Linked DNA regions of Homo sapiens: all the other regions are linked to region 1. Evidence: fine-mapped expression QTL. A gene starts in region 1. Each other region holds a variant in brackets. All regions are shown on one strand. Distances are between the middles of the regions.

The links.
Region 2: its variant is fine-mapped to the expression of MBD6 in whole blood (TOPMed, PIP 0.97).
Region 3: its variant is fine-mapped to the expression of MBD6 in whole blood (INTERVAL, PIP 0.98).
Region 4: its variant is fine-mapped to the expression of MBD6 in cerebellar hemisphere (GTEx, PIP 0.99).
Region 5: its variant is fine-mapped to the expression of MBD6 in whole blood (TOPMed, PIP above 0.99).
Region 6: its variant is fine-mapped to the expression of MBD6 in whole blood (TOPMed, PIP above 0.99).
Region 7: its variant is fine-mapped to the expression of MBD6 in whole blood (INTERVAL, PIP 0.98).

What each region holds. Positions count from the first base shown.
Region 1 is chr12:57,520,529-57,524,634 of GRCh38, reverse strand. It overlaps MBD6 (methyl-CpG binding domain protein 6), which reads right to left and starts at 1,811. Exons shown (of 13, transcript NM_052897.4): 1 at 1,624-1,811; 2 at 543-606; 3 at 219-355. The coding sequence starts at 331. RefSeq lists silencers at 1,580-1,979, 3,694-4,106 and enhancers at 2,240-2,379, 1,443-2,402, 2,500-2,569, 2,660-2,769, 2,403-3,363 and 2 more.
Region 2 is chr12:57,541,185-57,545,311 of GRCh38, reverse strand. The region is part of intron 2 of DCTN2 (dynactin subunit 2); the gene reads left to right. Among named protein-coding and RNA genes, the nearest start is that of DCTN2, 3.9 kb to the left of the region's middle. The variant G/A (reference allele first, on the strand shown) is at 2,025.
Region 3 is chr12:57,167,384-57,171,510 of GRCh38, reverse strand. It overlaps LRP1 (LDL receptor related protein 1), which reads right to left. Exons shown (of 89, transcript NM_002332.3): 19 at 3,987-4,067; 20 at 2,204-2,371. Among named protein-coding and RNA genes, the nearest start is that of LRP1-AS, 22 kb to the right of the region's middle. The variant A/G (reference allele first, on the strand shown) is at 1,845.
Region 4 is chr12:56,562,644-56,566,770 of GRCh38, reverse strand. The region is part of intron 2 of RBMS2 (RNA binding motif single stranded interacting protein 2); the gene reads right to left. Among named protein-coding and RNA genes, the nearest start is that of RBMS2, 43 kb to the right of the region's middle. RefSeq lists a silencer at 719-768 and enhancers at 352-889, 890-1,428. The variant C/T (reference allele first, on the strand shown) is at 1,917.
Region 5 is chr12:57,471,743-57,475,869 of GRCh38, reverse strand. GLI1 (GLI family zinc finger 1) reads right to left here. Exons shown (of 12, transcript NM_005269.3): 12 at 3,602-4,127. The coding sequence ends at 3,809. It overlaps ARHGAP9 (Rho GTPase activating protein 9), which reads left to right. Exons shown (of 18, transcript NM_032496.4): 10 at 1-37; 11 at 255-387; 12 at 472-579; 13 at 897-995; 14 at 1,167-1,244; 15 at 1,394-1,447; 16 at 1,694-1,828; 17 at 2,162-2,267; 18 at 3,182-3,601. The coding sequence ends at 3,353. Among named protein-coding and RNA genes, the nearest start is that of ARHGAP9, 6.1 kb to the left of the region's middle. The variant T/C (reference allele first, on the strand shown) is at 2,133.
Region 6 is chr12:57,574,440-57,578,566 of GRCh38, reverse strand. It overlaps KIF5A (kinesin family member 5A), which reads right to left. Exons shown (of 29, transcript NM_004984.4): 16 at 3,295-3,483; 17 at 2,810-2,927; 18 at 2,416-2,480; 19 at 2,189-2,298; 20 at 1,705-1,806; 21 at 794-854; 22 at 487-558; 23 at 225-329. Among named protein-coding and RNA genes, the nearest start is that of PIP4K2C, 15 kb to the left of the region's middle. The variant C/T (reference allele first, on the strand shown) is at 2,395.
Region 7 is chr12:57,204,572-57,208,698 of GRCh38, reverse strand. LRP1 (LDL receptor related protein 1) reads right to left here. Exons shown (of 89, transcript NM_002332.3): 72 at 3,950-4,072; 73 at 3,450-3,590; 74 at 3,214-3,348; 75 at 3,022-3,141; 76 at 1,958-2,226; 77 at 483-661. Among named protein-coding and RNA genes, the nearest start is that of NXPH4, 10 kb to the left of the region's middle. The variant C/T (reference allele first, on the strand shown) is at 1,906.

The DNA of each region.
Region 1 (4,106 bases):
TCCTCCTAGAAGAACAGAGGATAAGGAATGTGGGAAGACACAGAAAAAGGGAGAATGGATTCAAAGGCCCAGAGCTACAGAAAGCAAAAAGGCTGAGGAAGGAAGGGGAAGAGAGGAGAGCAATCGGGTACCAGAGAGCTGAGCTGAGAGAAGAAACGGAAGAAAGAAAACCTGGGCAACTGGAGTGGCAGAGCTTGGGGACCTGTGAAGATCCGTACCTGATGTAGAGCACAGCACCCTCTCGCACACAGCGCTGCCAGCCGATGGGGACAGATGTGGCCACAGGGCCCCCAGCTCTGTCTGCTCCACTGCTCTCATTGCCCCCATTCATTGTGTGTAATCAGCTCCCGCGTGCCTGATAACACAGACATCCATGTAGGCACTAGGAGGATTAAACTGAGCGAAGTACCTGAGAGAGGACTCCAGGAAGGCAAAGGTTGTGGGGAGACCCAAGAAAACTCAGGGGAAGCCCCAGAGGAGCAAGGGGAACCCCTCAGCTGGGAGGGAGACTGAGGAGTCCTCTGCCGTATCACCACAGCTACCTGAACATCTCTGCAAACATTGTGGGGTCCAGTCTAAAGCCGGGGCCACCAGCTTAGCCCACACCTGCAACGCAAGTAGAGAGATGGGACTGTCAGGAGTCTGCCCAACTCTAAAGAGCAGCACAGCCCAGCACCCTCTCAAAAGAAAGATCCTTAACAATGTGAGGCAAGCACCTATAAAGATCTCGGGGATCTGCTGGCTTAGTCTACAACCATCCTTTCCAAGCCCAGTCCCTAGGGACCAGAGGGTCAGAACCTCAGCTCCCTGGGACCAAGAAAGTCTAGCCCAATTCTTAGGCATATGAAGGGCAAGGCCTCCCTCCATTCGGAGTAGAAGACTTCAACCAGGAGTATGGGCACATTCCCATAATGCTAGGCCACTAGGAAGTTTCCCAGAGTGTCTGGCTCCTGTTGTTCTCTACCCAGGAAGATGATATAAAAAGTACAGATTGCCCCACAGGTCACCAGGCAATTGCCCAACTGCCCGCTGGGGTGGTACCAGCAGAACTCCCCCCATGCCTGCTCCATCAGACAATCGCTGATATAGTTCATTCGGGTCTTAAGAGGTGAGGATCACAGCTCAGTCTTCTCCCAGGATCCTGGGAAGCTCCTGATTTTCCCTCAAGCCTACGGCAAAGGGATTCAGAACCTCCTATTCCACTGGCTTCCGATTATCTCCAAGAGAGCCTGTCCTCCGATAGAAGGGGAAGCCCCTCCAACCTGCAGGTATCCTCCCCAGCCTCACCATTGCTCCCACCCCACACTGGCGGCTTCCAAACTTTCCCTCTCACAACAAGGCGCCCTGTCACCCAGACTGCTTCCCTCAGCTTGAGGAGGAGGGGAAGGCGCACGAAGTAGGAAGGAACTTGGGGAGAGGGCGGGCGGAGGGTGGGCGAAGCACTGAGGGGAGGGCGGTGAGGAAGGCAGAAGTCTGGCAGTGAGAGGGAGAAGCGGCGGGGGCAGGTGAGGGCGGGGGAGTGGGGATGGGGCCGGGGAAAGGGGCCGAGAGGACGCGGAGGGGGCAGAGGGTAGGGACGGGAGGGGGAGGGGCAGGGTGGGGGGGGCCGGGCCCCGCACTCACCGCGGCCCATGGTTCGGCCGGCCCCGCCCTGCGCAGTCGCGGCCCAGAGGGTGAGTGGGAGGGGGTGGGAGGAGGGTCGGTGGAGCCCGAGCCTCCGGTACGGCCCCGGCCGGTCCTAGCAGGAAGCGCCGCTGCCGCCGCCGCGGATCACCGAGCGGCCTCCCGCGCATGCGCCATGGGGGCCAGGGGCAGCCCTGGGGATTCCGTTCCCAGAAGGCACTGCGCAGGCTGCTGCCGCTGCCGCCGCCGCCGTCGCTGCCGCAGCCGCCGCCGCAGGAGCCGCCGCCTCCGCCGCTGCCCGGACGGGAGAGGGGCGGGGCCGGGCCCCCGCCCAGCGGACAGCGACGAGCCAACTGGAGGGGCTGCAGTGCGCATGCGGGAGCGCGCCTACCCCTCCCCCACAACCCCCCATTAATCCCCAAGAGAACAAACACCCCACGCGGCCCCCCCGCCCTCCGCGGAAGGATCTGCGCCTCTTCCCAGGCCACTGGTGGCCAATCCCAGCCCTCCTCAGGGAGGGGCCCCTTCCAAAGCCACAGTCTGTTGCGGGAACCAGGAATGCCAGGTCCGGGAGGGGCCAGGCCCCGAAAGATGAAAGTCGCGACTTGCCCTGCCCCGCCCCAAAGGCTTCCCGGGTAGTGTGCTGGGACTTGACCCGCCTCCCCAGGTCAACATGTCACAACACGACCTCAGCCTGTCAAGTCACATGACCTCTGCCTGTCACTGACAACCTGGTCTGTCTTTAGGCCAGGGGAGACCATCTGGTCCACCCTCCACACTACCCCCATTTTCAGAGAGGAAATGGAGGTGTGGAGCAGCGGAGCAGCCTAACCAAAGACCTGTCATTGCCACACCACTCCAGTCACAACCGGCCTTGTGACAGTTTCTACTTAAACTCTGGCTGCCCCCATGAGGGTATGACAGGATATGTAACAGGCCACCACATGGCCTCTGTTTTCAAGGCACAAGAAAAATACTTTGCATTCTGGGTGGTGCGTTTTACTTTTGGTCAAGTTGCCTCCAAGTTCATGGTTCTCATTTTACCTTCACAACTTTTATCTTTAATTTACAAACAAGGACGGTAAGATCCCTTGGCAAGTGATGGGGAGTTGAGTCTAAAATCGCGGCTCCGGTCTCCCCAGTCCAGGGCAGTCCTGCGCTGAAGTGCACTCACACGTCCCGGGATGAGACTCCGCTGTAAATCTCGACCCGAACACCTAGGAGGCAGGCCTGTGCCGCGCTCCTCACACAGGGAGTCACAGGACTTGCTGTCTGGTACAGCAAGAGAGGGTCTTGGAGAAAGCCATAGGAGTACCGTGGGGGAAAATAGGTGGCCAAACAGAATCGGGTCCACTGGGCAAAATACATGACTTCTGGCAGGCTGAGGGCTTACCAACTACAAGGTAAAAGTCAAGGGCGCTGTTCTGAGAGAAGCGGAAAATGACTACCAAGGGATTCCAGTACCTCGGCCCCTTTTGGGAGATTTACGGGGCTAGAACAGGAGACCACCCCCGTTTTTTTGTTTGTTTGTTTTGTTTTTTGTTTTTGGTGAAACGTAGTCTCGCTCTGTCACCCAGGCTGGAGTGCAGTGGCGCGATCTCGGTCACTGCAACATCCGCCTCCAGGGTTCAAGCGATTCTTCTGCCTCTGCCTCCAGAGTAGCTGGGATTACAGGCGCGCATCACCACACCCGGCTAATTTTTGTATTTTTAGTAGAGACGGGGTTTCACCATGTTGGTCAGGCTGATCTCGAACTCCTGACCTCAAGTGATCCGCTCTCCTCAGCCTCCCAAAGTGCTGGGATTACAGGCGTAAGCCACTGAGCCCGGCCAGGAGACCTCTTTAAGAAGACTCGAGATGTCGACAATCCCAGTGGATGGATACCAACTTTAAAAAGAAAAGTTCAAAAGGCCTATGTGCCCATTAGCTGGGAGGGGCCAAGAAATATGGGAGTCCCTTATAGTGGGGGTAAAACGGCGGGTAAAGCTAGGTGGGCGGAACAGCAGCTTCTGGGGGAGACAAGCGGCAAAGAGGCTCACGACCGACTAGGGGCGACCAAGGCTGATAGCCGTTGGGGCCGTTGGGCGCCGGGAGCTGGCGCCCCGCCCTCTCTCCTCTCCCCCACCCTCCGCACCTCCCACCACCCTCGGTGTCCCCTGCGCGTGCGCGTGCAGACACCGGTTGCCAAACATTGCATCATCCCCGCCCCCCTTTCCTCCCCTCCCCCCCCGCTACACTCCCCTCCGCGCGCGCGCATGACTCACCCACCTCCTCCGTGAAGCCTCGTGACCCAAAGCCACTTCCGGGTCCGACACTACGTCGACCCCCTAGCGAGAGGGAGCGACGGGGGCGGTGCCGCGGGGCTCCTGAGTGGCGGATGCGAGGGACGGGGCGGGGCCAATGCCGGCGTGCCACTTTCTGATTGGTAGGTTTTGGGGTCCCGCCCCTGAGAGGAGGGCAAGGCCATGGTAAAAGATTACAGC
Region 2 (4,127 bases), 21 kb before region 1:
TAGAAGGAAAAAAAAATTGAGTGAATGGAAATCAACATAGTAAAAACTCTGTTTAAGTGCCAAGAGGTGTGTTTATAGGATGTGTTTTAGGTTCTATTATTTCTGAAGACAGCTGGGCTGGGATCACATTGATGATGTGAGTTCTCAGTAAAGATGTGTCCAAGAGTCATTGCAATATGCAGGCTCAGTATGCTTGTCTGTAAGTCCTGTGGCTATGTCTGTGGGGCTGGTTAATTCTGGGGAATGCTGACTGCTGGCTTACAATGTGTGGCTTGGCGTACTCACTTATTTCTTATTTGACTCCCCCATGTGGAAGTGGTTCTTACATTGTGGGAAACACCTTCTCTGTCCCTTCTCCCAGTGGTGTGTTCCTTGTGGCTTCTGTATTTGCTGGCATGCCAATCTATCCCCTAAGCTTGAGTATCTTGGAGATAATGCAGATGATGTTGTTGCTCAAGGACCTGGGTGTGCACCTGTCACTCCAAGAGGCATCTTATAGGAAGCTGCCTCTGTCCTCACAGAATAGGAGTGTATACAATCGGTTCTCTGTATTTATGGGTTCCAAACCCATGGATTCAACCAATCACAAATGGAAAATATTTTTTAAAAATAAAAAATAGGCCCAGTGTGGTGATTCATGCCTGTAATCCCAGCACTTTGGGAGGCTGAGGCAGGTGGATCATTTGAGGCCAGGAGTTTGAGACCCCGTCTCTACTAAAAAATATAAAAATTAGCAAGGCGTGGTGGCGAGCGCTTATAGTCCCAGCTACTGTGGAGGCTGAGGCAGGAGAATTGCTTGAACCTGGGAGGTGGAGGTTGCAGTGAGCCGAGATTGCGCCACTGCACCCCAGCCTGGGTGACAGAGCAAGACTCCATCTCAAAAAAAAAAAAACCAGTACAACAATAAAAAAAAAAACAAAATTTAAAAATACAATATAACAACTATTTACATAGCATTTACATTGTACTAGGTATTTTAAGTAATCTAGAGATGATTCAAAGTATACAGGAGGGTGTAGGTAGGTTATATGCAGTTACTATGCCAATTTATATAGAAGATGGGAACATATGCAGATTTTGGTATCAAGGGAGGTCCTGGAACCAGTCTCCCACAGTTGCCAAGAGACAGCTGTATGCTGAGAACTTTACTGCACTACCACAGTTCAGACTGTTCAACTTAGGCCTAGGCTTCTGCCCTTCATGGTGAGATAATGAATAGAACTCAGTCCTTTTGTCGCTGTGATACAAACAGGTAGTTTCACAGTAATCCTCTTTCTAAACAAAAAAATACATATTGTCATTCCCTTTTGAAGATACTGGGATATCTCTTAATAAAAAGGAGATGACACCCATTCCAGGTGTGGAAGAACCTGACTGTGCAGCTCTGATTGGCTGTTTCTCCCCCAGAGCCTGAACAGCCTATTTTAGTAGCATCTAGTGGGGTGGCTGATGAGGAGAGGATACTGTGAGTGTTCATTTCCTGTGGCATGTTGCCCAGGATGCCAGTATAGAAGTGCATATGAGCTGAATGGCAAATACAAGAAGAGCTGAATTGTTTCTGTCACCTAAGGCTCAGCTAAGTGACTCTCTGTCACTAGGGAGGAATGGGGTGGGCAGACCTTCAGCCACTTCAGGGGCCCGAAGAGCCAAGATGTTTCCTGATGTCAGCTAATGTCTCTGGCCCCCGCATGTCCCTATGGGGCTTGCAGCTTTTGGGAAGTCAGCTGAGTAATGGCTCTGCCACTGCTTTTAATACTGACGTAAATATGCAATTTGAGGAGCAGTGAATTGTATGCTTAGATAATCTAGAAATGTCATGTCCGTGAGGCCTGGGATCTCACCAGCAGCCTGTCTGTTTCCTGCCTACCTGCCCAAGACCTAGTACAAGTGACAGTGCACATGACCTGTCTTGTGGCTGAACCATGAGATTTTCAGTCACCTTCTTTTTTTTTCTTTTTTTTTTGAGACGGAGTCTCACTCTGTCGCCCAGGCTGGAGTGCAGTGGCGTGATCTTGGCTCACTGC[G/A]AGCTCCACCTCCCGGGTTCACGCCATTCTCCTGCCTTAGCCTCCCGAGTAGCTGAGACTGTAGGCGCCCACCACCACACCCGGCTAATTTTCTTGTATTTTTAGTAGAGACGGGGTTTCATGTGTTAGCCAGGATGGTCTCGATCTCCTGACCTCGTGATCCGCCTGTCTTGGCCTCCCAAAGTGCTGGGATTACAGACGTGAGCCACCATGCCCAGCCTCAGTCACCTTCTTAACCCCTGACAACAGCATTCTCCGCCTTAATCTTCAGTTTATTTTCAACTTTAATTTTATCAGTTTTTAAAGTAGGTAATGTATGCACAGGGAACAGAGGATTCAAGGGTAAGTAGTGAAAAATCTGCCTCCCACCTCTGCCTACCACCACTCAGTTCTCTTCCCTAGAGACAACCAATATGGATAGACTCTTGTGGAACCTTTCAGGGGGTCTCCAGATTTCTTTTTGGTTTTTGAGACAGAGTCTCACTCTTTCCCCCAGGCTGGAGTGCAGTGGCACAATCTTGTCTCACTGCAACCTTTGCCTCCCCGGTTCAAGCGATTCTCCTGCCTCAGCCTCCCAAGTAGCTGGAATTACAGGCATGTGCCACCACACCTGGCTAATTTTCTGTATTTTTAGTAGAGATGGGGTTTCACCATGTTGGCCAGGTTGGTCTCGAACTCCTGGCCTCAAGTGATCCATCCATCTTGGCCTCCCAAAGTGCTGGGATTACAGGCGTGAGCTACCATGCCAGCCGGGTCTCCAGATTTCTGTCTAAAGGAATAGTCAAGTTGTGTTGACCCTCACTGCTCCATAACTTTCTTCCTGTGATTCCTCCACTGTGGAAGAAATTGGGCTACTAAAGGAAAAATGTCCTCAAACATCCCTTAAAGATTTAAATTGCTAATTTAACTTAAACATAAACATTTTCCGATTCCCATAGTGGGGAGGATGGGGGAGGAAAGCATAAAAGATTTAAATTTTGCTACAGATGATCGTGAATTTTTTTTTTTTTCAAGATGGAGTTTCACTCTTTTTGCCCAGGCTGGAGTGCAATGGCGTGATCTCAGCTCACTGTAACCTCCACCTCCCGAGTTCAAGAGATTCTCCTGCCTCAGCCTCCTGAGTAGCTGGAATTACAGGTGTCCATCACCACACCCGGCTAATTTTTTGTATTTCTAGTAGAGACAGGGTTTCACCATGTTGGCTAGGCTGGTCTCAAACCCCTGACCTCAGGTGATCCACTCACCTAGGCCTCCCAGAGTGCTGGGATTACAAGCATGAGCCACTGTGCCTGGCCAATCCTGATTTTTCTACTATCCCTTTAAAACAATTTTAGCAGGAAGTAAAATCTTCTAAAACAGGAATGGACCAGGAAAGTGCACGGGCTGTAGCCCTTTCCTCCTCAATCTGGGAAGATCTCTTTGCACTTCAGACACTCCCAGGTTAATTGGGGCAATAGGCTTGCTTGGAGATTTTTCTTAAAATGTTTGGAAAACTAATTCCCAAATAGAATTCCACCCACACACACACCCCGACCCTAACCCCTGGGCCCACAGCCTGCCTTGGGTCAGTGAGGCTTTCTGCTCATGGCTTTTGAACTGCTGGAATAAGGGAAGTAAATTAAGAAAAACCTCATTAGAAACAATTTAGCTTCTCTCTTTATGGCATAACTACCCGCAGTAAAAGGGGAAAAAATGACCTAGCCATAGTTTGATGGGGCCCTGGCAGAGGCTTCATTTCTCCAAAAGGTAGATATTACTGGACACTCCTGAGATGAGAAACAGTACTTCCTTACAGTTTAGAAGATCCTGGAGTATGCTTGATTGTGTTCATTGACTGTTGGCGCACTTGAACTTACCTGAGTTTTTCCTAATGCTTCCCCCATCCTCCCTCCTCACCACCTTGCCTGGACACTAGTTTGCACAAGTAAGACCATTCAATGCTTCTTCTCTGCATGTTTTTTTCATCTGCCATCTCGCATGCAATGCTCTGCCACTGTGCTATTGTTGTAGCTAATCGTTTTAAATTCCAGTGAGTCCCTGGCTGGGTCACTGAGGGGCCTGCTGGCCTTATGTTTAAAGATCATTAATCAAGGGTTAGAAACA
Region 3 (4,127 bases), 350 kb after region 1:
AGGACAGCCTCATTCCCCACTGTCCCTGCACGAGCCTTTCCCTCGGTCTGAACGGCTCCACCTGGCCCCACTGTCACCCTACGGAAGTGCTCAGTTTCACCCTCTAAGTCTTGACGACAGCATTCTCCGGACCATGCCATCCCCACTGGAAGACCCTCCCTCCTGTCCATTTACCTGCAGTCTAAACACAACTCCTCCTGAATGGTCCCAGACCATCCAGCTCATACCATAGTTAACAACTGCTACCAATAGTGACACCCTGCTCCTCCACGCCAGGCCTCACATACCTCAGCTCATTTCATAAAGGAGGATGCCCAGGCTCAGGGGAAGCAACTTGTCCAAATTTGCCCAGCTTATCTGGGAGCGGCAGGGAGCTCTTCTCACCACACCACACAGCCTCCAGAGGCCCCTTCTCAGAACCCTAAGGGATATCACCTGTGCCCCTCACCCTCCCCTTCACAGAGATAGCCCTGGAGACGCAATTACTATTTCCCAAGCTTCCTGTGGCCTTCTCTGTCCTCCCTCTCAGGGCAGGGCTCAAGGTGGGCACTCAACGCTGTCCAGTCTTCTCCTACTAGGGTGGGAATGTGCCCTAACTCTATAAGGCAGAGGCTGTAATCTAGTGGTCCATGGGTCAGATGAGGCCTGCAGGAAGAGTTTGGTCTGTAGTTTTTTTTAAACTTTTTTTTTCTTTTGAGACAAGGTCTTATTCTGTCACCCAGGCTGGAGTGCAGTGGCGAGCTCACAGCTCACTGCAGCCTCAACCTCCTGGGCTCAACCTCTCACCTCAGCCTTCTGAGTAGCTGGGACTACAGGCATGTGCCTCCATGCCCAGCTAATTTTGTTTATTTTTTGTAGAGAAAGGGGTCTCACTATGTTGCCCAGGCTGGTCTTAAACTCCTGGAAACAAGTGATCCTCCTGCCTTGCCTCCCAAAGTGATAGGATTACAGGTGTGAGTCAACACACCCAGCCTTTTTTTTTTTTCTTTTCTTTTTTCAAGATGGGTTCTCCCTATGTTAACCAGGTTGGTCTTGAACCCCTGGCCTCAAGTGATCCTCCCACTTCACCCTCCCAGAGTGCTGGGATTATAGGCATGAGCCACCATGCCTGGCCTGCACCCAGCCTTTTAAAACTTCTAAAATCAACTGCCAGTTGGTATGGCTTGAATTGTGTTCCCTAAAAAGATATTAGTCCTATCCCATAATACCTGTGAATATGACTTTATTTGGAAATAGTGTCTTTGCAGATGGTCAACTTAAGATGAGGTCATAAGGGTGTATCCTAATCCAATATGACAGGTGTCCTCACAGAAAGGGGAAATGGGGATCTGGTGACAGACATGCCCACAGGGAGGACACCGTGTGAAGATGAAGGCAGAGATCGGGTCAAGCTTCGACAAGCCAAGGAGCTGCAAAGATTGCCAGCAAACCGCGGAGGCTGGGGAGAGGCCTGGGACAGAATCTCCCACACGGCCTCAGAAGGAACCCACCCTGCCAACAGTTGGGTCTGGGACTTCCAGCCTCCAGAACTGTGAGACGAGAGAAACTAATACTGTAGTGTTAAAAATTTGGTAGTTTTCACATAAAAATCTGCACATCTTCCAGAGCTAGGAAGCCAGCATTCCTTGAGAGGGCCCATCCCTCCAGAAAACTAGGTCCCCACCGCCCCCGAGGCTGGGCCCCAGAGGCCAGGGCACTGGGAGCCTTGTGGAGCCAGGCCCTCTCTCCTCTGTCTCTTCAGGCTCATTCATCCCTGCCTGCAGCATCCTTTTCTCAAGCTACTATTTACCAAACACAGGCCGTGTGCTGAGCACTTTTCGTGCGTGATCTCACTAAACTCCCAC[A/G]TCAGCGCTGTGATGTTGGTGCTATTATTACCCCACTTTGCAGACGAAACTCACAGAGGCCCATGGAGATTAAGTAACTTGCTCAAGGCCACCCAGATAATAAGCTGCAGAGCTGGAGCTCAAACCCAAGGCCACCAACTGCAAAGCGCATGATATTAACAGCGTGTGGCAATGATTTTTCGGCAACCTCCCTCTCCCACAGGACCGGGAGCTCCTGAAGGACAAGAGCCATGCCTAGGCTACCTCTGGCTCCCAGATGGTGGCCGACACACCGTGGGTCTGAAAGACAGATGGATAGGCTGGGTGTCTGATGCAGGGGGCTCGATCTCATCCCCACCCCACGGGCCCCTGGTGCCCACCCTGGTTGGTGCAGTTGGCGTGTGTCTCATCACTGTAGTCTCCGCAGTCATTGTCCCCATCGCAGGTCCAGTGCTCGGGGATGCAACGCCCGCTGTTGCACTTGAACTGGGTGCTAGAACAGGAGTGGCTGCAGCCGGCTTCGTCACTGTTGTCCCCACAGTCATTGTCTGGCGGTGGGGGAAGAAGGGGAGAGGCAAAGCGGGAGTTGGTGGAGCAGCCTTCTCTGTGATCCCAGCTTGGGCCCCCTGCCCAGAACCCACCCTCAGCCCACCCTAACCCCCCCACTGGGAAAATAACAAACAGAAAAGACACAGAAACTGCATAGACTGCAGCATGCACCATGGCCCACGTGGTCAGGATGAGGAGGAGGAGAAGGCTCCTGGAGGGCCCCTCACTGAAGCTCAGAAAGGCTGGGTGCAGGGAACATTAAACATTTCATTTCCCCTTTCTGGCAGGTGTGGGAACAGGGGTCTGCTTGCTTTTGGGGGAAAGGCAGGGGTTTCTCTAGTTTTGGAGGGAGAGAGGTAGGTGGGGTGCAGGCGTGGCCGGCTTGAGACAAGCTTTACAGGCCTGCCCTGAGGCTGGCACTGCTGAATACCATGCTCTGGGTGCCTGGCTTACAGGGGCCCTGCCTGTGGCTGGCAAGAGTGGGGGCCACTTCTGGACCAAGCTCGCTGAGGCTGGCTGAAGGAAGCTCCTGCTTTCTCAGCATTGGGTGGGGGCTGCTTGACTTGACCCTCTGTATTTATGGGACATGTGGTGGAGACTGGGGTTTGGGTTATGTTCCTGCCTCTTTTCCAACTGGATTTGCTTCTCTAACTCTCTCCTCCCCTTGCATCTTGGGCTTTTTGTCACCACCTCTCTGTCATCTCCTTTCCTCAGAGGCTCCCTCTGCCGTCTCTGCTTCTTTCCTGACCACTATTTGCTTTCTCCCTCTGTTTTCTGCTCTCCCTCCTCTCTGTTGCTTTTTCTTCATATCCTAGCAGCTCTGGAGTAGGGGCCTGGAGAACCTGCAGGGGGCTGGGGCCAGCTGAGCTCTGGGTGATGGTGCATGTGCTTCTATGCACTGACCGGCAGGCTCAGGACAGGTCTGTTCGTCAGAGCCGTCCCCACAATCCTTCTCTGAAACACAGAAACCGCCGGGGCAACCATTGGCATGCGAGACACAGAAAAAGTGAGGGGCAACGTGGCACTGACCCAACACATCCGCTCACACATCAGCTGGGACAGGAACCACTGGGGCAGCACGTCACAACACAACACAGACAGAACAGAGCCCTGAGACACCACACACGGCAGTCACCTGCCCGCACATTTACACACATACTAGCCCTGGTGGCTCAAGGCTGACATCACCTGGTCCATGGCTATCTGCCAGGTGGGCTTCTGAGCCTGAAGCCCAGAGCCTGAGGGGTGCACCAAGGACTCCAGGAAATGGGGGTTTGCAAGGAGAAAGGAGTCAGGCACCGGTTTCTCCTTGCTCTGCCTCTCTGGCCCATCTCACTCATCTCTCCCTGGCCTCCGAGCCCTACTAGAGGGTGGGCAGCTCAGGCCCTGCCTGGGGTAGGAATGACACTAAAAGGTGATGGTCTCCCCTTGGTCCATCGTGGCTCCCTCCAGGCATTTCTGACTTCTCCTGTTTTCTCCCAGGCAACCCAGCAGGGATTCAGTGTCCTGGAGGGAGGCCCTGCTGGATTCTGAAGCCCTTTGCCTTCCCTGGAGGGCCTGGCTGTAGCCTCTAGCTGTCTTAGGAATCAGCAGGTGAGGAGAGCAAGCTCTTACCATTGTCGCATCTCCAGTTGATGTTGATACATCTGCCATTGTTGCAGGTAAACTGAGTCAGGGGGAAGCAGGTGGGATAGGCTGTGAGGAAGAAAGAGTAGCTGAGTAGGGCCTTCACGATTACACAGCATCACAGTACTG
Region 4 (4,127 bases), 960 kb after region 1:
TCTCGGCTCGCTGCAACCTCCGCCTCCCGGGTTCAAGCGATTCTCCTGCCTCAGCCTCTGGAGTAGCTGGGATTACAGGCATGCGCCACCACACCCAGCTAATTTGGTATTTTTTAGTAGAGATGGTGTTTCACCATGTTGGTCAGGCTGGTCTCGAACTCCTGACTTCAAGTGATCCACCTGCCTCAGCCTCCCAAAGTGCTGTGATTACAGGTGTGAGGCACTGTGCCCAGCCTAACAGTTGTGTTTTTCAACTTTTTGAAAATTATACTTTGGTAGCAGAGTCATGTGGAACTTCTAAAACTTGAGTAGTAGTGTATCACAGATCAGGGATTATATTAGAAGCGTTCCACTAGAAAAAAGCCTCTACATTCCACTCCAGGAGGGTGAAAATATTAAAGAGACAGAACAGAAATCACTAACAAAGTCAGAAGTACAAGAGCTAACTGAAAATAGTTGTCAGGGAATGAATTTGAGAATAATACCCCAAACAAGCAATTTTCCCATCTCTCCTTCCATCCCTAAAGAACATATGATGATTGATTTGTTTTCACTCCTTGGCGGCATCTCACTGACTTTTTTAGTAGAACTTCTGTGATCCAAAGGATTAGACAGAATAAGCCAAGCAATGCCCTGAAAGCTGGGAACAGAACACATTAAAAGGAGGGTGAGGATGGATGTGGCTATCCTAGCCCTTCCAGGCTACACACTTGGATTCATTCCCAAATTGAGGCAGGGGAGGGACTCATGAGAAGTCTGACTGTGGGGCAGAGGACACAAGTGCTGCTATCCTTATGAAGGCCCCAGGGTGGAGCTTGCTGTGGTCTAGCAGCTGAGACTTTGAGCTCAGAATTTCCACTGCAGCTGGCAACAGCTGGGTCACTGCTGCTGCTTCCTTGAAGGAGCCCCTCCGAGAAACAGGAGTTCCAGTCCTAGACTCCACGCCTCTCCTTCCCACATGCCAGACTTTAGGATCCAGCAATATTTACTTCCTCTACAACCCAGGGAGAGACAACTGGGACAAAGGCAGGAAGTCCGTCTACGCATGAGAAACATCCTTCCTAGAAAGGCTTAACTCCCTGCTCACAGCGGACAGAGGGCTCCACCCACCTGCTCTGCTCAGCCTCCTAGTCAGGACTCCTCTGGCACCTCTTTCATTCCTGCCTCACTCCTGCCTCTCCACAGTCCCCTTTTGGGCTCCTTACTTCGATCCTACATGCTGCCCTTGACTATACTTATGCTTCAGACACAGCAAAAGATAAGGCAATTGTTCAGAAAGGCAAAATAAAAATCCCTCTGTATCTGTGGGTTTCCCACTTGTGGATTGAACCAGCCATGGATTGAAAATATATAGGAAAAAAAAAAAAGTCTTTCTTCTAAGAGAGGTTCAGGGAAAAAAAACTAAAAAAATAACTGTTGGGTACTATGCTTAGTACCCAGGTGACAAAATAATCTATACACCAAATACCCAAGTCCCGAGTTTACCTATGTAACAAACCTGCACATGTACCCCTTAACCTAAAATAAAAGTTAAAATGTTTTTTAAAAGAAAGGATGGTTGCATCTGTACTGAACATATACAGACTTTTTTCTTGTCATTATTCCCTAAACAATACAGTATAACATTTATTTACATGGCATTTGTATTGTATTGAGGTATCATAAGTAATCTGGAGATAATTTTAAAGTATATAGGAGCATGTGCATAGGTTATATGCAAATACTACACCATTTTATTTTATTTTATTTTTATTATTTTGAGACGAAGTCTTGCTCTGTCACCCAGGCTGTGGTGCAGTGGCGTGATCTCGGCTCACTACAACCTCTGCTTTCTGGTGGCGTGATCTCGGCTCACTGCAACGTCTGCTTTCTGGGTTCAAGAGATTCTTCTGCCTCAGCCTCCTGAGTAGCTGGGA[C/T]TACAGGTGCCCACCACCACACCCAGCTAATTTTTGTAGTTTTAGTACAGACGGGGTTTAACCATGTTGGCCAGGCTGGTCTCCAACTCCTGACCTCAGGTGATCCACCCATCTTGGCCTCCCAAAGTGCTGGAATTACAGGCATGAGCCATCATGCCTGGCCACTATACCATTTTATCTAAGGGACTTGAAGCCAGGCTCAGTAGCTCATGCCTGTAATCCCAGCTTTTGGGGAGGCCGAGGCAGGAGGAATGATTGAGCGCATAAGTTTGAGACCAGCCTGGGCAACATGATGAAATCTCATCTCTACAAAATTTACAAAAAATTAGCCAAGCATGGTGGTGTGTACCTGTAGTCCTAGCTACTCAGGAGGCTGAGGTGGGAGGATTGCTTGAGCCCTGGAGGCTACAGTTAGTTGTGATTACACCACTGCACTCCAGCCTTGGTGACAGAACAAGATCCTGTCTTAAAAAGAAAAAAAAGCGTAGGGACATGAGCTCAGTGAATTTTGGTATCCATGCAGGGGGACAGAGGAGGTCCTGGAACAAATCCCCCCCAGATACTGAGGAACGAATATATGGTAGTCTAATCAAGATTCTTCTCTGAGCGAGGCACGGTGGCTCACACCTGTAATCCCAGCACTTTGGGCGGCCGAAGTGGGCAGATCACCTGGTCAGGAGTTCGAGACCAGCCTGGACAACACAGTAAAACCCCATCTCTAGCAAAAAAAAAAACAAAAATTAGCCCGATGTGGTGGCGTGCGCCTATAATCTCAGCTACTTGGGAGGCTGAGACTCAGTCTTAAAAAAAAAAGATTCTTCTCTGTCTTGTGATGTGAGAGAATTTTTGTAGCACATTATATTTAGTACAAGAAACAAAATTTAGAAATCAAGGACCTATATTAGTATGATACTCTTTCGCTCCCTCAAAAACCAACATTTCTGCTAATTCCCACCTCTCAAAAATTACTAGTCCAAGACAGTCCCCTTAATTCCACTTACATACCTTTCTAGCAAGGTAAGCTGAGATAACGGACCAGTTTTAAAATTTTTTTTAATATATATTTTTACTATATTTTTTATAGAGACAAGGTCTCACTATGTTGCCCAGCCTGGTTTTGAACTCCTGAGCTCAAGCAATCCTTCTGCCTTGGTCTCCCAAGGTGCTAGGATTACAGGTGTGAGCCACCACGCCCGGCCCAAGGACCAGTTTTTTATATACACCAGACTTTATTTTTTATTGCTTATTATTTTTTGAGCTGGACATCTGTGCACTCTTGCCATTTTTCCAACATTCCTAATTGGGCAATTCCATGAATCAAATCTACTAAAAAGAACTCCGAAGGGTCTTCATGGGGTAGATACAGAATAATTGTTCCTATCTCCACCTTCTTTATCTGCTAATTTGAGGTCTCCATTCCCAAGGAATATCTCCAGCAGCAGAAAGTCTCCAAAGTGCATGATTTGATTGGCGAGTCCCACTTTCTTCCATCCCCACTGCCAGCTCTCTCATGCCTTCTAATTAACATCTATAGAGATATTAAACTTCTCTATTCAAGGTGTAAGGACAGCAGTCTTTCCACTAAGACCATCAGGTTGGGGGAGGTGCTGGAAATAAAGTTGGATATTAGGCTTTAAAGGCCAGTCCCACACTGGCTTTCCTTAGAGAAACACATAAAGGCTTTATAATATATATCAGTAGCAGGTAGATTTTTATTTATTTTTATTTTTTTGAGATGGAATCTCACTCTATTGCCCAGGCTGGAGTGCAGTGGCATGATCTCGGCTCACTGCAAGCTCAGCCTCCAGGGTTCACACCATTCTCCTGCCTCAGCCTTCTAAGTAGCTGGGACTACAGGCACCCGCCACCATGCCCGGCTAATTCTTTTGTATTTTTAGTAGAGACGGGGTTTCACCATGTTAGCCAGGATGGTCTCGATCTCCTGACCTCGTGATCCGCCCGCCTAGGCCTCCCAAAGTGCTGGGATTATAGGCATGAGCCACCGCACCCGGCCAGTAGCAGGTAGAATTTTTTAAGAGGCTGCTGAGAAAGTTTGTGTCTATGGAGTAGAAACAAAATGCCATTGCCTTTTAGGATAAGTGAGCTGGCAAGGCCAGGAGTGGTGGCATGCATCTGTAATCCCAGCTACTGAGACAGGAGGATCACTTGAGCCCAGGAGTTCAAGACTAGCCTGGACAACATAACGAGACC
Region 5 (4,127 bases), 49 kb after region 1:
CTGGCACCGCGCGCTGCGGACTGTCATCGAGCGGCTGGTTAGATGGGTGGAGGCCCGGAGGGAGGCTCCGACCGGCCGGGACCAAGGGAGTGGGGTAGGAACGATAGGAGTCAGGAGCAGTTGGGGGCAGGGTGGGCTCAGTGGAGAGCCCTTGCCTGGGCCGGGATGTGGGACCCCGGCAGTGGGTCAGAGTCCAGCTAGGGATACAGATTTCTCTCCTCTCTCACCTTCGACACGGCCCGCCCCGGGTCTAGGATCGGGAGAACCCCCTGGAGCTGCGTCTGTCGGGCTCTGGACCCGCGGAGCTGAGCGCCGGGGAGGACGAAGAAGAGGAGTCGGAGCTGGTGTCCAAGCCGCTGCTGCGCCTCAGCAGCCGCCGGAGCTCCAGTGAGGCGCGGGCTGGGGAGGGAGAGTCCGGGAGCGCAGCGAGGCTCCCGGGCGCTCACGCCCCGCTCTACCTGCCTCCTGCAGTTCGGGGGCCCGAAGGCACCGAGCAGAACCGCGTGCGCAACAAACTAAAGCGGCTCATCGCGAAGAGACCGCCCTTACAAAGCCTGCAGGAGCGGGGTCTGCTCCGAGGTGAGGGGGCTGGGCCAGGTTCATGGATAAGAAAACTCCAGCGAGGCTCAGAGTAGAGCTTCCCAGAACTAGACCACAACCTTCTGTGACTGCTGCTTTCCCACTACCCCAGATTGTTTAGGGGAGAAGCTGGGGTGACCTGTACCCCTTTGCCAGATTGTTTGAAGCAGGGGAAGGGAGGTGGAGTGTATTTCCTTGCCCAGGCCTGGCACAGGCAGCCAGGAGGACCAGCCTCACTTAAGGATAAAGACCTATGCTGAGAAGAGCTCCTGTGAGTGACGCTGGCACTGGCTTCCCGCCTCACTCTACTTCCCCAGACCAGGTGTTCGGCTGCCAGTTGGAATCACTCTGCCAGCGGGAAGGAGACACGGTGCCCAGCTTTTTGCGGCTCTGCATTGCTGCTGTGGATAAAAGAGGTCATTTTCTCAGAGACCCCAGAATCCTCTTCCAACAGGCTAAGGCCTAGAATTTTCTGCCTCCCCCATTCTACCTAGTCTTCCTACTGCCCTTTTTCTCTCCACCCTTATATCCCTCACCACACACACTTTCAAGCAGCAGTCCTTATCTACTCCTTCCTCATCTCCCAGGTCTAGATGTGGATGGCATTTATCGGGTGAGCGGGAACTTGGCAGTGGTCCAGAAGCTTCGCTTTCTGGTGGACAGAGGTGAGAAGGCTTGTGGGCCAGTGGTTGTACTAAGAATGTCTTGCCTGAGAACCATGGGCGGTCCTACATGAGGAAGCTGGCAGAATAGAGAGGCCGTCAGGCTGGAAGTGTATGTCTTAGCTCCTGATCTCTCCTCATTCATGTTGCAGAGCGTGCGGTCACCTCCGATGGGAGGTATGTGTTCCCAGAACAGCCAGGACAAGGTACTTACATGGAAGACCCTTCAGATCCCTAAAACTTCCACATATCCTCTTTGCTTCCCGTGGAAACCCCCATGTACTATTCCTGGGAGGGTTGTCCTCATCCCCACCTTAGCTACCTTGCCCCACTGCAGACCCTCTAGGCATTCCTATAGTCTGCTTTGACTGGATTTCTCCAGAACTTCTAATCTCTCAGTCTCTAAATCTTTCTGGCCCTTCATGAGCCCCTATACCTCCTTCTCCCTCCAGAAGGTCGGTTAGATTTGGACAGTACTGAGTGGGATGACATTCATGTGGTCACCGGAGCCCTGAAGCTTTTTCTCCGGGAGCTGCCCCAGCCTCTGGTGCCACCACTGCTGCTGCCCCATTTCCGTGCTGCCCTTGGTAAGGGTTGGAGCTTTGGAAAGAACCCTTGATGTGGGGGACACGGGTGGTAAATAATAGAATAGAGGTTCCCTTATACTCTTCTTTCCCATTCTGACTTTAGAGATGGAAAATAATGTTCAACTCAGGTGCCTACTCCAGTTGCTTTTTTGTGAATGTTTAGAGGGCTGAATTGAAAAGAATTATGAGGCTATAGTTGGGCTATGTGAAAAAGAAAGCTGTGCTAGATTAATGATGTCTTCCATGCCTGTGGGAAAGAGCAGTGCATTTACCCATCCTGTCCTAGCACCTTCCCTAACCTTAC[T/C]ACCATGCCTTTCCCATCACTCTCTCTAGCACTCTCCGAATCAGAGCAGTGCCTCTCTCAGATACAAGAATTAATAGGCTCAATGCCAAAGCCCAACCATGACACTCTACGGTACCTCCTGGAGCATTTATGCAGGTCAGGAAGACAGAACCTCTTTGTTCATGCTGGGGAAAGGTGGAGTGGGGAATGCCACAGGGACTCTGTGCAGGTGGAGTGAAGGTAGGGAAGCACCTAAGTTTAATGGGCAGGTGAGGAAGCAGGCAACCTCTGTGCAGGAGCATATTACCAGAGTCAAAACCTTTATTTTTTTATTTTATTTATTTTTGAGACAGAGTCTCGCTCTGTCACCCAGACTGGAGTGCAGTGGCGCAATTTCAGCTCACTGCAACCTCTGCCTCCCGGGTTCAAGTAATTCTCCTGCCTCAGCCTCCTGAGTAACTGGGATTACAGGTGCCCGCCACCACGCCTGGCTAATTTTTGTATTTTTAGTAGAGACGGGGTTTCACCATGTTGGCCAGGCTGGTCTCGAACTCCTGACCTCAGGTGATTTACCCACCTCAGCCTCCCAAAGTGCTGGGATTACACCGTGCCCGTCAAAGACTTTAGGTCAAAACCTAAAGGTCAGCATCAAGTGGGGAAATGGAACCAAGATGCTGTGAAAGGAATAAGGGAAATCTTACTTCTCCCTTCCCTCTGCCTCTTTGTCTCCCATTGGGACATTGCTGATGGCTTCTTTGGTTGAACTGGGCCTGGGCAGTGACTTCTGAGAGAGGATGGCCACTTGAATTAAAGACTCCCAAACTGTGAGCAGGCAGAACTCTTGGGGCAGCCCCTGAAGTCGGAAGAGGCAGTTATATCTTCAGGTTGTATCCTGAAGGTTTCTCCACTGGTCCATCTCCATTCTCCTTGTATCTCCTTGGTTTTTTTGTTACCATGTGGAGGAATCCCAGAGTGAACTCTTCCCTGCTCAGAACTTTGAAGGGTTAGTTAGATTGCTATGAAGTGGCAAGCTGCTGCCATATATCCCCTTCCTTGGCCTTTGCTTACAGGGTGATAGCACACTCAGATAAGAATCGCATGACACCCCACAACCTGGGAATTGTGTTTGGACCAACCCTGTTTCGGCCAGAGCAGGAGACATCTGACCCAGCAGCCCATGCTCTCTACCCAGGGCAGCTGGTCCAGCTGATGCTCACCAACTTCACCAGCCTCTTCCCCTGATGCAGGGAAGGAAGAAGAGAAAACATATTTCCGGTCATCTCTGGTGGTGAGAGGCTGGTGTTCTGTTTTGAGGATATCCCTTTAAATCTCCCAAATGACTGTCTCTATCTTCATGAGTGTGACTTGAGGTGTTGGGATGGGTGAGGGAGCTTCTCTAAAGAGGAAAGTGAGTGGATTAACCCCTGCTTCTCTTCTTGTTCCCTGTTATCATTCCTCCCCAACATAATAATACATAAAGTGGCATGGTATTTTTTCTGATGCAGTTCCTTTATTATCAGGAAACAGTGTCATTATCAAATTTCTCCTCAAAACGTATACAGACTATACATAGCCCCCAGCCCATACCTCCCATCCCTGGGGCATCTTGTGCATGGGACTGCAGCTCCCCCAATTTTTCTGGAAGGATAGAAACCCCTTAGGAAATGCGATCTGTGATGGATGAGATTCCCTACTCTTTAGGCACTAGAGTTGAGGAATTCTGTTTCCCCAGGTAGGGATCTCAGTAAGACACTCATGTTGCCCACAGCCATGTTGGGGGGCCCAGAGGGAGGTGGGGTATGTCCAGAGCTGCCCCGCTGATCATGGGAAGGAGGAGGACTCAGCCCCTGGGGCTCATCCAGAATAGCCACAAAGTCCAGCTGAGTGTTGTCAAGATCAAGAGAGTCCAGGGGGTTACATACCTGTCCTTCGGGAGGAGGGTACAAGGCAGGACCCCCTCCTAGCCTGCCCACCTCAGGATGACCACAGCTGGGGTTTGTGCCTCCCACTTTGAGA
Region 6 (4,127 bases), 54 kb before region 1:
CAGAGGTGGGTTAGAAACTTTGAGAAGGGAATACAGGCATGAAACAAAGAACAAGGTACAAGTGGACCAAATATGGTATAAAGAAGGGATTAGTAGGGAAAGTAAAAGCGAACAGTAAGGAAAACATGCAACTAGATTTTCCTGAATCCAAGGGGCCTCTGAGGATTTGGTATGCTAGCTACCCGGCCTCAAAAATTCTCTTCACTCCTTCAGCAGACTCTTACCTGTTTGTGAACCTTTGTAAGCTGTTCCAGGTTGTTCTCAAGAAAGGAAATCTTCTGCTTTTGGGAGTGAATCCCCCCACTGTCTTCGGGCTCCATTTCTGCACTCTGAGAACAGATAGAAGGAAAGACGTGGCTGTCCTGAGGCCAAACAGGTCCCACCAAGACCAGGCCAAGCCAGCCCCATAGGGGCAACAGGGGCAGGAGAAACCTAAGGATAGGAGGAGGATGTGGGGGCTGACAAAACCCCAAGGACAGCACTCACTTTCTTGACTCGAGTCGTGACGTCTTGAACGAACAGCTTGCGAAGGTTGTGGAGGGTCTGGAGTTCCCGGGCCTGGAAAGAATGATGAAAAATTGGGAATAGCCAGATACCAGGTCTGTCCTATTCCTCCAGAATTATAGGTACCTCCAGTCTCTATAATCAAGTGAGTCACTTATCCTTTAGGAAAAAATGTGTCTTGATTACGCTACAGAATGGCTGCAAAAGGGCAGGAGGAATAGGGTTAGGAAGAAATGAAGCCTCCCCACTCCCCAGTCCTGTGAATTTGGCACAGAAGGGAACCACTCACAACTGTCTCCTCCAGACCCTTGAGGTCCTGCTTGGACTGCTCATGTCGCTCGTACAGAAATCTGTAGCAAGAGAAATAAGGGAAATGGAAAGATCCCTCAGGACTCTCCTTCCTCCTGCCTCTTCCTCTATTACTTTTATCTCCATTTAAGTATTACTATTATTGTTATTTTGTGAAACAGGGTCTCATTCTGTTACCTAGGCTAGATAGAGTACAGTGGCACAATCAGGGCTCACTGCAGCCTCAACCTCCTGGGCTCAAGGGATCCTTCCCACCTCAGCCTCCCAAGCATCTGGGACCACAGACGTATGCCACCATGCCCAGCTAATTTTTGTATTTTTAGTAGAGACAGGGTTTTGCCATGTTGCCCAGGCTGGTCTCGAACTACTGAGCTCAAGCAGTCCACCTGCTTTGGCCTCCCAAAGTGCTGAGATTATAGGTGTAAGCCATCGCACCCAGCCTATTATTATTTATTACACAAGTTACTCATGTTTACTGTGCAAAAATTAGAAAAGAATTTTAAAGAGAGACATAAGGTGAGTTTTTATAAAAAGCCTATGATTCTACTATTTACAGATCAAACCAACATTAACCTTCTGGTGTCCACCTTTCTAGACTTTTTTCTATGCCTACATATCCATGTATACATTTTTATGGGATCATACCATGCATATGGTTTTGTAACCTGTTTTTACACTGAATAGAACACGTAAACCTCCTTCCATACTGGTGAATACTCAACGGCAGTCTTTGCTGAGAGTGTCCTTTTGGTCCCGTCCCTACCCCATCATATTTTTCCCATGAGTCACCCTATCATGTCTGCATGTGTGTCCTGCCTCTGCAAGCGTGTCTGAGTTCACAGTTCTGAGCCTACAAGGCTGTAGTTTTACAGGTAAATCCATGCCACTCACGTCAGCTCCTGCAGCTTGGTGCTCTTCTCGTGTTCTTCGCTCTTCAGCTTCTCGTAGTCAGCCTGAAGCTTCTCTAGCTCTAACTGGAGCTTCTGATTTAGGCTACAGAGCATCAGAAGGTAATGGAGATGGGGGAGAAAGATGTTAATGAGGGGGAAGGGAAGGCCAGCTCTTCAAACTTCTTCCTTTTTGAACGAGTGAGTCCAGTTAGAATTGATGTGTCCACCTTCAGATACCAGAGGCAGACTCAGGCCACTGTTTCCATGACAGAGCCAGGAACCCTGACCTCTCTAATCCTGGGACCCTCAAGGATAGGGACTAGTCGTTATTCCATGTGTCTCCTGAGGTGGGGCTACGAAGTTGTGGCATTGTTGAGGGAATGACACATGGATGTTAAAGAATCAGACCCAGAGGGGACATGTGAGTCAATACAGCAAGGTGACAGGACCCGGGAGGGGCTGGAGTCGCCCTTGGGAACCCTTACTCTTTGAGCTCATCAATGGTCTTCTGCTTCTCGTTGATCTCGTCCCGGAGCCGGGCCAGCTGCCGGTGATGGGCCTCCCGGTGACTCTCCATCTGCAGCTCCAGAGCCTTCTGCAAACAACCCCACCCCAAGCTCAAAGGCCAGACTCCCAGCAACAAGCTCTGTGAGGGCCAGCACAGCTTTCACCACACCAGGCCCCAATTGTC[C/T]CTGACACCTTCCTTACTCACCTTCACTTCATCTGCATCCTGAGTGTCAGGCTCCTTGTCCTTCAGGGCCACTTCATGCACAGTTTCTAAGGGAAAGAGGGGAAGACAGCTGACATCAAACCTACCTCTTTCGGAAAGAACTTCACGTTGTGACCAGAACTCCAGGCAGGGCTGGGAATGGACCCACAGGGATGTTCTTCTGTGTTAGGACTGTCCAATTTGATATAGCAGGAACAGAGAACAAGGGTGTATGGTTAATGTAAAATGAGCTACATGCAAAACCTTGGCTAACATATGAGTTGGCATCCATGATTTCAAGCTAATGCTTTGAGTGAGTGATTATTGGGGTGATTTATTTTGATGTTTCTGACTTTTCTGCCCTGGACAGTGGGATGGAGGTATAAGAAGGCCTCACCCTGGGCCTGGAGCTTGGCCAGCTCATCGCTCAAGGAGTCATAGGACTCTTCCAGGTGCCGCTTCTTTAGCTCCACGCTCTGCATGTATTCCGTAAGCGAGCGGATCTTGGCCTCATGCTGGTGGGAGAAAGTTGGTGAGAGGAAGAAGATGGAGCAAAGGACACAAACCCAGGCCACACAGATCTCCAACTCCAGCTCTCCTCCCAGCCCTCCCTCCTGCTACACTTCCCATGAGGGTGCAGGGTTGGGGGCCATTCCTATGGGGCTCTTCCTTTAGCTCCCATGGCTCAGGGGGCAGTACCCGCCCTGAGCCTTTACTTTTTTGGCCCTGATCTGCACCCCTGCCACCCCAGCTTTTCTGTCCTTGATTTCACTTGACCCCAGAACTTTGACATAAAGGTGGGTGTTAGGAGTTTTAGCCATAACCCCAGAGTAGCCTTCTTTCTCCCATGGCATCTGAAGGTTCTCAAACTTAGGCACTCACCTGAGAGATGAGGAGCTGGCAGGATGAGAGCTCCCGCCCGGTCACTTCCATCTTGCGGTGACACTCCACCTGGAGGTTCTCCAGCTGCCGGCACCGCTTGACCACAGACTTGACTTCTGATTTGATTTTGCTGATGTAGAGTCGGGCCACAGTGAACTCCTCCTCGATGGCCCCACTGATCTCCACTGGCTAAGGTGATTAAAGGAGGAAGAGATGCTTCTTGGCTGCTGGGAAGCTTTATCTGTTCCCTCCCACCTTCTACCTACCCATACACACCCACATACGCAGGGACTCAAATGGGATGGGTATTTTCCAAACGACCTTTAGCAGCTCTCTATCAGCGGCATTTCACATTAAATTCCTCCGCCTGCATTTAAAAATCCAATTCTGGCTGGGCGCAGTAGCTCATGCCTTGTAATCTCAGCACTTTGGGAGGTCAAGGTGGGTGGATCACCTGAGGTCAGGAGTTCGAGACCAGCCTGACCAACATGGTGGTGAAACCCTGTCTCTACTAAAAATACAAAATTAGCCAAGCATCATGGCACATGCCTGTAATCCCAGCTACTCAAGAGGCTGAGGCAGGAAATTGCTTGAACCCAGGAGGCGGAGGTTGCAGTGAACCGAGATCACACCACTGGACTCCAGCCTGGGCGACAGAGTGAGACTCCATCTCAAAAAAAAAAAAAAAAAATCCAATTCTGGGCCGGGCTCGGTGGCTCACGCCTGTAATCCCAACACTTTGGGAGGCCGAGGTGGGTGGACTACGAGGTCAGGAGTTCGAGACCAGCCTGGCCAATATGGTGAAACCCTCTCTCTACTAAAAACATAAAAAA
Region 7 (4,127 bases), 320 kb after region 1:
AAGGGGTGAGTGTGGGCAGGCCGGAGGGCCAGAGGAGGCAGGCCCAGGCAGGACACCAGCTTCTTGGTCTGGGGACAGGGACTGCTGGGGACTGGGAGGAGGGCATTCTGTCCTTCTACAGAGAAGCAGGCGGGAGTCTGCTTCTGAGCAGGTTGAGGGGCTTTTCCTCTAAAACCACAGTGTGCTCATTCAGAGCCACCGACGCTGGCAGAGCTGTTCCCCAGGGCAGAGTGTGGCTGTGCATGACAGCCGGCCAAGCAGAGGTCAGATCCCTGCCCAAGCAGGCCCAGCTGGGGGCCCTGGGCAGAGGCAGCATGGGGAGGGCCAGGCAGGGGTGGCCGAGAAGACCCAAGGGACTGAAAAGGACTCTGTCCTCAGGCTGGCCTGGGAGGGAAGGGCACGCATGTGGGTGCAGCCCCCAACCCTGTCCCGGGGGCTTCCTACCACCAGCCCAGAGGCCTCCCCCCAGGGCCCTTGCCCACCCCCTCAGTGGGTCCACCACAATGGCGTGGGGCTCGTCAATCATGCCCGAGATGAGCGTCTTGCGGTTCTCGCCCTTCATCTGCGCCACCTCAATCACATCTCGGCCCGAGTCGGTCCAGTACACGTTTCCGGCCACCCAGTCGATGGCGATGCCTCTGGGCATCTTCAGCCCTGAAATCTGAATGGAAGCCACAGGTTCAGGGGCCACTGCTTTGTCTTCCTGCCATTATCCCCCCGCCACCACTCTGCCAGCCTGCTGGAACGTCACCCCAGGCTCACAGCCAGGACCCTGGCTTTAAAGAGATTCAACCGGCATGGAGCTTATGCGCCAGACTCGCAGCTCTCACACGTGGCTGGTGAGCCCTCCCTGAAGCCTGTGCAATGGCGATGATCACCTAATTTTATTGATAAACAAAGTGAAACCCAAAGAGGTTAAATGAGGTAGCTAAGACGTACACAGTGGGAAGTGGCAAGGATGGGGGATTGGTGCCGGAGGGCTGTCTGCCTGCCCATCATGCCCTGTGCCCTGGGCTGCCTGCAGCACAGCCAGCTGCTGACCATTCCCACTGCTCTGTCTTCCCGCTGGCCATGCCTCAGAACACAATCCTAAGACTGCCCCCTGCCCCACTCTCAACCTTTGCCCCTCGCACTGCCCTTTTGTTTTCTTTTTCTTTTTTTTTTTTTTGAGACGGAGTCTCGCTCTATCATCCAGGCTGGAGTGCAGTGCTATTCTGCAACCTTGGTGCCACTGCAACCGAGTGGCACTCGGCTCACTGCAACTTCCACCTTCTGGGTTCAAAGGATTCTCCTGCTTCAGCCTCCTGAGTAGCTGGGATTACAGGCGCCCGCCACCACGCCTGGCTAATCTTTGTATTTTTATTTTATTTTATTTTATTTATTTATTTATTTATTTATTTAGAGACCGAGTCTCTATTTATTTATTTATTTATTTATTTATTTATTTATTTATTTAGAGACCGAGTCTCACTCTCTCGCCCAGGCTGGAGTGCAGTGGCGCGATCTCGGCTCACTGCAAGCTCCGCCTCCCGGGTTCATGCCATTCTCCTGCCCCAGCTTCCCAAGTAGCTGGGACTACAGGCGCCCGCCACCATGCCCGGCTAATTTTTTTGTATTTTTTAATAGAGACGGGGTTTCACTGTGTTAGCCAGGTTGGTCTGGATCTCCTGACCTCGTGATCCACCCACCTCTGCCTCCCAAAGTGCTGGGATTACAGGCATGAGCCACCGCGCTCAGCCAAATTTTTGTATTTTTAGTAGAGACAGGGTTTCACCATGTTGCCACGCTGGTCTCAAACTCCTGATCTCAGGTGATCTGCCCGCCTTGGCCTCCCAAAGTGCTGGGATTATAGGCGTGAGCCACTGCGCCTAGCCAGCACTGCCCTTTTCAAATCCTGCTCTGAAC[C/T]GCCTGCTCTATGGAGCTCTTCCACTCCATCCACGCCAGGTTGGGCACTCACGTTGAGGTGGGTGACACCCCGGTCAATCTGTCGCCGGTGGCGGTTGGAAGTGGTAGGAGGCGCAGCAGGTGGCAGGCTGCGGTAGGAGATGGTGCCCGTGTGCCAGTTGGTCCAATAGACACGGCCAGCCTTGACATGGACATCCATAGCATCAATGCGGACACTCTCGTCACCCTGGAATGCCTGCTCGTAAGCCGAATGGGGGTGGCCGGGGAACAGGCTGCGGATCTCATTGTCATCAGCGATGTACAGGACCTGGTACTCAGAGCCTGGAGAAGCAAGAGGCCAGGGCTGGGGCTGTGGGATGCAGGTGTGCACCCCACCCAGCTCAGCTCCTTTCACATGAACACTGTCCCATCTCCTGGTAGGACCATCTGCTCCGGCCAGAAGCTGCTGCTTACCCTCCCTGCTCAGGGTTGCAGGCTCCAACCTCAGCCTCTGGACCTCCTCCTCTCCTCCCCTGAGCTGATCCACTGTGACCCGCTCCTTTCAGTCAGAAAGCTGTCCCTGCCCCTCCAGACCCAGAGACTTCCACCTCCTCACGGCTGCTGGATGGCATCACCACGCTCTCTGCTACAAACTGCCTGGCACATGCTCGGGGGTGCATAGGCACATGGGGTGTGTGTGCTTGGCATGGAGCACGAGGGTGTGCATGGGAGTGCATGGTGGGGGTGTGTGTGCCAGGGGTGTGTGTGAATGTCTGTGTACAGGCATGTGGAAGGCAAGGTGGGCATCAAAGCATGTGGGGAATGTGCAGGTGAGGCCCCCATGACTGTGAGTGTGCAATGCGTGTCTGAGTGTACTCTCGTCCTGGCAGTGGTGGGTGAGGAGGTGTGTGTGCAATTCAGAGCACTGCCACACCCCAGACTCCTTCAGTCAGCCAGCCCCAGGACCTGCCCCCACTGCTGGGCCAGCACTGTGCTCAGGCAGCTGCAACTATGAGTCTGGGGCTTCTTGTCTGGGCAAGATGTCCGCAGGAAGACATTCCATTCCAAGTCGGCCCCGTTTGATATCCTGGTCGCCCTGCCCCACCCAGCCTTTCTGCCCTCTGGTGGCTCCGGCACCTTCGGCCTTGCAGGTGTTGTGCGTCTTCATGAAGTTCCGAGCGCAGCTGCAGAGGTGGCCGCCCTTGGTGTTGTTGCAGAGCTGGGAGCAGGTGCCGAAGCGCAGGCACTCGTTGATGTCTAAGGGTTACAGGGAGGGTCATGAGAGTCCACAGTTGGGGTGTCCACCCCTGCTCTGCCCCGCTTTCCTACCTTGGCATCCGGGCTGGCCGGGCACGGTGTGGAAGCCCGAGCGGCAGGCACAGTAGGCCGCTTTCTCGGTGCGCACGCAGCGTGCCTCGTCCCCACAGATGCTGGCATTGGTGGCGCAGCTGGTCAGCTTGGGGTCTGTGGGGGACAGAGAGTGGATGCCCTCCCTTGAGCCACCCCAGGCCAGGGCTTGGCTCTCCCCACTCCCCACCAGCGTCCGGTCCGCTGCCGGGCCTCACCGATGCTGCAGTCCTCCTCGTCAGAGCCGTCCCCGCAGTCATCGAACATGTTGCAGCGCAGGGAGGAGGAGAGGCAGCGCTGGTTCCGGCACAGAAACTCCTTCTTGTCTTTGCAGTGGGTGGTGTGGGCTGTGGGGGGCTCTGAGGAGGGCAGAGGCTTTAGGCCCTGGGTATTCTCCCCTGCCTCCTCCTCCCACGGCAACCCCATAGATAACAGTGGCTCCCAATTCCTAAGTGACAAGGCTTGCAGGGGGAGCAGGTCAAACATTTGGGTTCCCAGCCCCACCTCCAAGACCTAAGGCATCAGGCAGCCCCCAGAGCCTTCCCCAGGGGCTTCTCTTTCCTAACGAAAAGCCCCCAGGCTCCTAGCAATGGATCCTCCCCTTCCTGGGCGAGTCCTCCTGGTTAACCCTAACCCCAGTGCAGCTCCCACGAGGACCAGACTCACCCCACTGTGCACTACCCGTCCCCTGCAGGCCTCTCGTCGGCCCCCTGCTCACCACAGTCCTCTTCATCAGTCCCATCCCCACAGTTGTCCGTGCCATCGCATTGGCGCCCGATCCACAGACAGACGCGGTCATTCTTGCAACGGAAGGGCCGGTTGGGAGGGCACACGAACCGGGCTGCAGCAGCCAGGGGGACACAGAGCCAGAATTAGTCTTGGGAGTGGGGGTGGTT